Regions from separate parts of the Homo sapiens genome. Here region 2 is linked to region 1. Evidence: fine-mapped expression QTL. Tissue or cell type: whole blood. Region 1 holds a variant in brackets; the other region holds the start of a gene. All regions are shown on one strand. Distances are from middle to middle.

Evidence for each region. PIP is the estimated chance that this variant, and not a neighbour inherited with it, causes the effect.
Region 2: it holds the start of MMP8, and the variant in region 1 is the best candidate, but not a certain one, in a credible set for the expression of MMP8 in whole blood (TOPMed, PIP 0.88).

Annotation. Positions count from the first base shown.
Region 1 is chr11:102,689,560-102,693,948 of GRCh38, forward strand. MMP27 (matrix metallopeptidase 27) reads right to left here. Exons shown (of 10, transcript NM_022122.3): 8 at 4,347-4,389; 9 at 3,379-3,482; 10 at 1,928-2,451. The coding sequence ends at 2,207. Among named protein-coding and RNA genes, the nearest start is that of MMP27, 14 kb to the right of the region's middle. The variant G/A (reference allele first, on the strand shown) is at 1,690.
Region 2 is chr11:102,722,834-102,727,222 of GRCh38, forward strand. It overlaps MMP8 (matrix metallopeptidase 8), which reads right to left and starts at 2,121. Exons shown (of 10, transcript NM_002424.3): 1 at 1,921-2,121. The coding sequence starts at 2,022. RefSeq lists an enhancer at 1,328-2,527.

The DNA.
Region 1 (4,389 bases):
TTATCTATGAGTTATAAGAATTCTTTATATATTTAAGATACAAGTCCTTTATCAGATATATGTTTTGAAAATATTTTTTCCCCAGTGTATAGCTGGACTTTTCATCCTTTTAAATTTTTATTTTTCTTTTTGAGGCGGAGTCTCACTCTGTTGCCCAGGCTGGAGTGCAGTGGCGTGATCTCAGCTGACTGCAACCTCTGCCCCCTGGGTTCAAGCGATTCTCCTGCCTCAGCCTCCCGAGTAGTTGGGATTACAGGCACCTGCCACCACACCTGGCTAATTATTTTTTGCATTTTTAGTAGAGACAGGGTTTCACCATCTTGGCCAGGCTGGTCTTGAACTCCTGACCTTGTGATCCACCTGCCTTGGCTTCCCAAAGTGCTAGGATTACAGGCATGAGCCACTGCGCCCAGCCCAGCAGTTTTTTCTTTTGTTTTGTTTTGTTTTGTTTTGTTTTGTTTTGTTTTGTTTTGTTTTTGAGATGGAGTCTCACTCTGTCATGAGGCTGGAATGCAGTTACGCGATCTTGGCTCACTGCAACCTCCACCTCCCTGGTTCAAGCGATTCTCCTGCCTCAGCCCCCCGAGTACTGGGACTGCAGGCGCGCACCACCAAGCCCAGTTAATTTTCGTATTTTTAGTAGACACAGGGTTTCACCATGTTAGCCAGGATGGTCGCAATCTCCTGACCTCATGATCCGCCCACCTCAGCTTCCCAAAGTGCTGGGATTACAGGTGTGAGCCACCACGCCTGGAAAAAAAATTTTATTTAATTATATGTTTTATATAGAAATAGGGTCTTGCTATGTTGGCTGGGCTAGTCTTGAACTTCTGGCCTCACGCAATCTTCCTGTCTTGGCCTCCCAAAGTGCTGGGATTACAGGCAGGAGCCACTGTGCCCAGCCAACTTTTTATTCTTTCAATATTGTTTTTTGAAAGCAAAGGTTTTAAATGTTAAAGTTTAATTCATTCATTTTTTAATGGTTAATAGTTTTTATGTTCTACCTAAGAAATCTTTGCTTAGTCCAAAGTCCCAAAATTTTTTTAAAAAATATTTTTTGCAAGTTTTATAATTTTATTTCTTATATTTAGAGGTCTATGGCACATTTTTATTAATTTTTGTGAATAGTGTGAGGTAGGGGTCAACATTCTTTTTTCATGCATATGGATATTTGATTATTCCAGCACTATATATTTTTTTCACAAAGACTACTAACTACTACCTGCTGAGTGTTAAGCTGTACTTCTTAAAATTTACTTTGTGTTTCAAACATAGAATAACTCTTTTATGCACCTCTTCTTTTAGGCAACTGGGAACACTGAACTCCAGGGAAGTGGGGGTGGGGACCAACTGTAGGAATTTGTGTGATTTTCTATGCCTATTTTCTATCAGTTGACGTAATGCCCAATATATCACCTCATCAGAAGCAAGTTCCACTGATAATCTCCCATTTTCTGGGTCAAAAATTTTGTTAAGAGCTTTGCTAAGCACTTAACTTTGAGGGTATAATGATAAAATCAAGCCATAAGCATTTAGAAAGTCAACAAATCCATGATGGAACAAAGAGTACAGAAACTTTCTACCCATAGGCTCAGATGATGCACATATACCACAAACACAGGATGAAAATCCTCACATTTCTTGTGTCTGAAATCAGTGTGCAGAAAACTTAATTTTATATTCCCTAAG[G/A]AATGTTTAACGGCGTTGGTCAATGTTTGTGAGGCTGGGGGAACACTTCTCTCCTACTTCTGCTAGTTCCTTACTTGTCAGAGAATAACCTCTAACGTAACTCACCCTGCATCTATCCAGGCTGTCACCCTTCTCTTTGGGAGGTGGAGTAACTTACTTGATTGATGGGTTCAGAACATGCATAGGGATGAGCACTGTAGTTTATTGGGGCTCTTAAACTCCAAAGGTCCAGACAAAATAGAATGCTAAAGATTGGTTTAATAAATGTTTCAGTATTCAGTTATAAGACATGTCTTCTCCAAGTCCACAAAGCATGAAATAGGCTTAAAGTACAGTCAGAGATTTTTGTTTCTACATAATAACTTCCTATTAAAAGAATCAGGCAGCTCAAAATGGCCATTGAATTTGGATATTTAGAACTAGGACCAGCAACTTGTTGTTAAAGAATGGTTTTATTCTATTTTGAAGCAGAATTTATATTAAAAGACCTGTTGAGGTTTATTTTAGGTCTATGAATTTATTGATAAATAGAAGTGTTTTTCAGCAAATGAACAATACCAAAAATAAACAAGCTTAAACTCTTATGATACAATATCTTTATGCCTCCTGAATGTGCTTTTTCCTTGTTGATATCAAAACCAAATGAGGAGTTCTTTGGTTCTTTGCATTGAAACCAAGTATTAGTTCTCATGATTCGGGTAATATTCTTTGTCTTAATGTCGTATTCAAATTGCTTTGATCCACGGCTGAAAAAGAAGAATCCTAGAGACAGGGAATCAGGATTAGTTATCTTTCATAACTATATAATACTTCCATACTTTTAAATTTTATAAACATGGAAAAAAATAACATTATGGAGAACGAAGAAATTTGTGGAATCACATACATACATTTTAGTTTTCTACTGTCATGTGGGAAATCCTATTATTTTTATTTCCCTAAGGAGGAAGCCAGTGTTATAAAGGGTGAGTTTCAAGGGACTTTTTACCTTTCTAGCCAGACTGTGGTCTATGCCAGAGGTTTTCAAACTAGGCTTCAACAAAGTGTCTCAGTGAGGGGGAGGAAAAGGCCCCTGTGGATATGGCCTTGGTCTCTATATTCTCATTTTCTTAGAGCCGTTCTACTTTGATCTGTTTTAGGTTTTGAGGTTCTGTGTTAGATTTCATTGTAATAATAGATCATGTCACTCAAAGATATTTCTAGATTACCCCATGGTCTAGGTCATTGTCTTGGATGATATAGTTGCTGGATTGTATTCATTACATTGCCTGAGGTTCTTTTAAAACTGCAGATTCTTAGGTATCACTCACAATTCTGCCTCAAATACTTTGTTTCACACACAAACCCCAAGCTATGTACATTAAGGTACATACATTAAAGTTTGAGAATCATTGTTTTGTTCATGTGCTTAGTCACTTCGCACACTTTAGGGGGTGTCTTTACTTATCAATGATGAGTAAAATGGATTTGGTACTTTTTACATAGATTTGAGATAGTATAACAGAGAGTATAATTCAGGATTTATGGATTCAGTTTGTGATAATGTTTGTGGGGTTAATGTTTATTATTGTATATACTTAAGAGTAGCAAAATTGCATTAAAATAAAAGCATTTAAGTTTTTGTGCTGTCTTTTTTCACAGTCAACACAGTCTCTCAAGTATCCCAATAAGTGAGACATCCATGCTTACCTTTGTACTGGAAAGCAGCATCAACACGGATACTGATTCCAGGAAAGTGTTTTACCACTCTCTGCGGGAACCCTTTGTCCATGGTTTGGGTCATTTCATCAAACCTGCATACAAGAATATGAAAGGATACCAGCGGATCTTTGGTTTGGGGAGCTTAATTTGTCTACCGCACAACTTAGAGTCAAGCAGGGATGTGGGGAATACATAGGCATAGTAGAGGAAAACTAATTGGATCAATAATAAAAATACAGTAAAGATTATGTTTGGTTGAATCATTTATAGAATCTTCCAAACAAGAAATGATCAGGGAAAAAGGGCACAACATATGTTAGATTGATGCTATTCAGAGAAATCGTTACATCAGATTGAAGGCTGAGCTTGGAGCTTTCAAAATTTTTCACTAGATATGTTTGTGTCATTGGCAATTTGGTTGGGATCACCAACTTTTTATTTTATCTTATCTTTTTTTTTAAATTGAAGGAAAGTCATTAGACTCATTGAGATCTCTTTCGGCTTGATAAATGTCATCCACTGCCTTCATTATTCACTTTAAGAAGACTATGGGCTGGGCGTGGCGACTCATGCCTGTAATCCCAGCACTTTGAGAGGCCGAGGTGGGTGGATCGCTTGAGCCCAGGAGTTCGAGACCAGACTGAGAATCATGGTGAAACTCCATCTCTACAAAAAGTACAAAAATTAGCCAGGCGTGGTGGCACATGCCTGTAGTATCAGTTACTTGGGGGTTGCTGAGACAGGAGGATCTCTTGAAAGCAGGAGGTCGAGGCTGCAGTGAGCAGAGATTGCAGCACTACACTCTAGCCTGGGAGACAGAGCAAGACTCCATCTCAAAAAAAATAAAAAAATAAAAAATATTATGGATTCATTTTAATTTTGTCTGTGTCAAAGTGATGCTATTGTGAATATTTTTCTCCATAATAAAACAAAGTGTCAATTGTCTGTAAACTTACCTCCAGCACCAAATGCCCACAAAGAAGTAGGTTTTTCTTGTGG
Region 2 (4,389 bases), 33 kb after region 1:
TTTTTAGAAAGAACAGTTCCTCCACTCAGTGCTCCAGTTAATGGTTATGCATAAAAAAGGGTGTCTCATAAGGGATGAGGATCACATCACACAGGCAAAGTGCTACTCTACAGTCAGGAGACTGTCTTCTTGTTTTTACAAAAAAATTAGGACTAACATTAATTGACTTCTCTTGAGGTATTTGTTGCATCAGTGCAGTTCCTCTTTTTTATCCTCTTCACTACTGTAGAAAAGGCTTATTTATTCTGCTGAACAAACAGAAGCACAGAGAATTAAGGAATTTTCCAAGTGATGATTCAGATTTTAACTCACCATGTTGCCTCTCAAATGAGAACTGATAATTTCAAAATAATTTCAAATATCTTTTAGGGGAACAGCAATATCATTGATATTAGCATTTTATTCACCAAAGTAACTCTTTGGAAGTGTTAAATTTAGTCAAAATCCAAAGAGTTTAGCCTAAAAATTACCTATTTTAAGTTTGGCTTAAAAGTTTCTTCATACACAGTGAAATGTAACCTAACTAGACCTCATGCTGCCTGTGAACACCTGGCACCTTGTCAGTGTCTTAGTCCATTTTCTGTTGCTATAACAGAATATCTGAAGCTGGGTAACTTATACATAAAAGGGGCTGATTTTCTCTCACAATTCTGGAGGCTGGGAAGTCCAAGATCAGGTGGCTGCATCTGGTTGGCTTCTGAGATGGCCTTGTGCTGTGTCATAACATGGCAGAGAAACAAAAGGGGAGCAAGCATGTGTGAAAAGGGGCAAAACACAAAGGGCAGCCCCTCTTTATAATACCCATTCTATTAATTACTAATCCAGTTCTGCAAGAGCCAGAACCCACTCCAGCAAAAATTAATCCAGTCACACAAGAGTGTCATTAATCTTTCTTAATGACCTAAGTACTTCTTAAAGGACCCACTGTCACATGGGCTACTAAATCTTTAACACATAAATTCAAGGGACACACTCTAACCACAGCAGTAGGTGACACTGACCAGATCACACGCTTTGGAATCAGACAGGCCTGGGTTCAAATCTTAACTCTGCCATGAATTAACTGTGAGCACTTGGCCACATTATTTATCTGATTTAAGATATTTTTGTCTCTGAAATGAAAATAATAATGCTCCAATAAGGTTCTTGTGAGGATTAAATGAGATATTTGTGAAATGTGTAGCAGTTGCCTTGCATAGAATAAGCACTCAATGGACTTTACATTAACCCGGGGGTTACAATTAAGAGATAACCTCTTAATAATAATAATGCTTTCTCCAAACTATAATGCTAAGAAAACTGTGCATGAGAGATTTGTGACAGAATTCCCTTGTGTTTCTTAAAAATTTGGGTTCACTTTCAGACTGTGAAACAATGGAAAAAAACTATTGGTTCTGCTTTTATAATGCTTCCAAGAGTTTATAAACAGTCCACAATCTGATGCTGGGAAATATGATTTTACTGTGTACTGATTTCTAGTTCATTGTAATCTACCATCCTCACATTATTTTCTATATCTGGAATTTTTGGCGGCAAAGAAAATGCCTGTATGGAAGCACCAGACATATAGTAACTTGATTGCAGATATCCTGGAAGGAAAAACCTTAGGTAAATGAGAAAGAAAATGATACCATTTTATAAATAAAACCATTTCTTCTACAAAAGTTTCCCAACTAGGGGTAACTCTACAGCAGTATTTTCCCAGCCTTTAAAGAATTCAGCTTGTTTTCATGTCCGGCTTTTAAAAGGCCTAGTCCTTACCAGCTTGGAACCCTCCAAATCACTAAAAGGAGATGTTCAATCTCAAACTAATCACCCAAATAATTTCTTTCAGGCTGTTTTAATTAACAAGAGAAAACAACCCACACTATTTCCTAATAATCAGCAAATCAAACATCACCTAACTGATAGTTCATTTACCTGAACAGTTTTTGTATTTTTCTCTTTAGAAGATACAGGAAAGGCCTTGGAAATCTGCACATGGAGTAAGAGCAGAAATGGAAGCGTCTTCAGGGAGAACATGATCTTCTCTTCAAACTCTACCCCTCCTGGCTTTCTTTCTGTCCCTCTGGGTAGGGCCCTTCCCTGGCGAGCACCCTGACGTTCACAGCATCATGTGTCACTCACAGCTCTCTTGCAGTCCTCTTTAAAGCCATGTCTTAAACAATTGCTGCATCAGGAATATGAAGCAACATAGGTTAATTACACTCTGACAGTTTTGCAATTTTATAATGTGATTTAGTACCCCCAAATGGGGGAGTCTTTCAACAGTCTTTCAAAACTCCAACTTTCTACTCTTTGCTTTTGGATGTTTTAGTTATTTCCTTTTACAAAATTGGTTGAGGAAAAGGAACAAGGGACTAATCCTGAAGTTATGTGGATACATTTTTTGACTATGTAAGATGTTGAGGTTGAATTAACTTATGCAGGGGAATATTTTGAGGTTTGTGGTAGATATCTTGGGACCAAGGAGCCCAACTAGAGAATCTCTGTACTTACCCTCCCTCATTGTATGTGGAGAGAATGAGTGACTGTGTTATTACAAAGCAGGCTTTGTATGGGGCCTAGAGCTGCTTCTGGAGGATGTGGTTTGGTATCAACATATTAGAAAATCCCTAGTCTATAAGTTAGACTTTCCATGGAAAAGATAAAGAGAACAATACTGATGATGATAATAATGAACATTTGCTAAAAAATTATGATTGCCCAGACATTTGTACTGTGTTCCACATATTACCCCAATCCATCTTCACATAGCCTTGGGAGGGAGATGCTATTACTATCTCCATTTTACAGATGAAATCAAATCCAGAGACATTTAGATGACCTGTTTAAGTCACATGTTTCATTTGTGGAGGGGCCAGGATTCAACCCCAGAGGGTATGTTTAGAGAGACTGAGCTGGGAGCTACTATAAGCTCTGCATGGTAGTCTCCCACTTGAGTCTCTGGCTGGGCCATAGTGGAGCAGCAGCTCTAGGCCTTCAACAGCTGGATACTTTGGCTTATATTCACAGGCAGAAGACAAGGGAGAGGGAGAATGAGATGTTGTACATCTTCAAGGAGTAAGACACTGAGAGATTTCCAGACAATATGGCTACATAGGAGACTGTTTGTCAGAGGCCCCTGGGCATGCTTTTCAAATCATGTAACCTGGTCCCACTTATTCTGAGTCCACATGCATGTAGTTTGTTATCATACACAGTCTTTGTGAATACTCATTTACATATATGCATACATATTTGGTAAAGGCAGGTATTCTTGTGTATAAATGCATGTGTCTACATGTATGATACATAGCATGTATTAATATGTAAAGAGTGTATTTGAGATGCTATGATAAGGAGTTCTGATCTTTCCTGAGGTCACTTAGGAACTTTGAAAATGATCCAAAGAAAGGTGTCTTGGGTTAGAACATATCTGGACAGCAGATTAATGTTAATGATGTATATTCCTACATTCATTCAGTAAACATTTCCTGTCATCTACTACATGCCACATGCTGTGATGGGTGCTAGAGTATTGGAGATAAATTAATAGAGGTTTGGATAAAATGCTGTGGGTGTTTGGAGGAAACAGCAGTGGTGTGGAGGGAGTGAAATCAAGGAAGGTTTCATGAGGGAGGTGGAATTTGAACCGGATCATGAAGAGGTAGAATGTAGACATGCAGAGATGTAGCAACCCATTCTTTGTATTAATATAAATGTGACAGCTTCCTGCCAAATTGTTCAAAGATCACGGTCATGTTCATCCTCCTTGAGTTCATGGCTTAATGTGGCTTTCTTTACATTAGGTCTTTGGTGAAAAAATGCTTTTTCCTCCACGAAAATGCCTTAACATTGGTCTAACTCTATGTTGAGTTATTTTGATGCAATGGCTTGCTTACAAGGTTTATAAATGTACTTTCTTCTGAACATAACAGCAAGTGATTTAGTTGAGAATCTAAAACTTCGGTAAACTTAGTTTTTGGTGTTTGGGTAAATGCTATGTTAAAAAATTGAACGGTTGGGTCTGGATTCCCCCAACAGGCCCAGCCCTGGTGCAGTGGTGGAGAAGGCTATACTGCATTTGCTTTCAGGGCTCCAGCTTGTGCCTTCTGAATCCTTTCTCCACACCTGACCACTGTCTACCTCCGTGGTGTCTGTGCCTCACCTGCTTCTGGTCCCTGGGACTGAGTTCTCTCAGGCTCTCTCCCCCAAAAATCAAATCAGTCATTTACACTTCAGTGCGAACAGGAGTTGTTCGCCTGTTGAGTAGATATCTTGCTAGAAAAAACAAACAAGCCAACAAAGTTTTAAAAATGAAGGTATTGTTCATTATAACATGAGTTTCAGGGCAAGTTAAGAAGAAGAAAGAAATTTAGTTTGCCCAGAAAACTCACAAGGCAATGT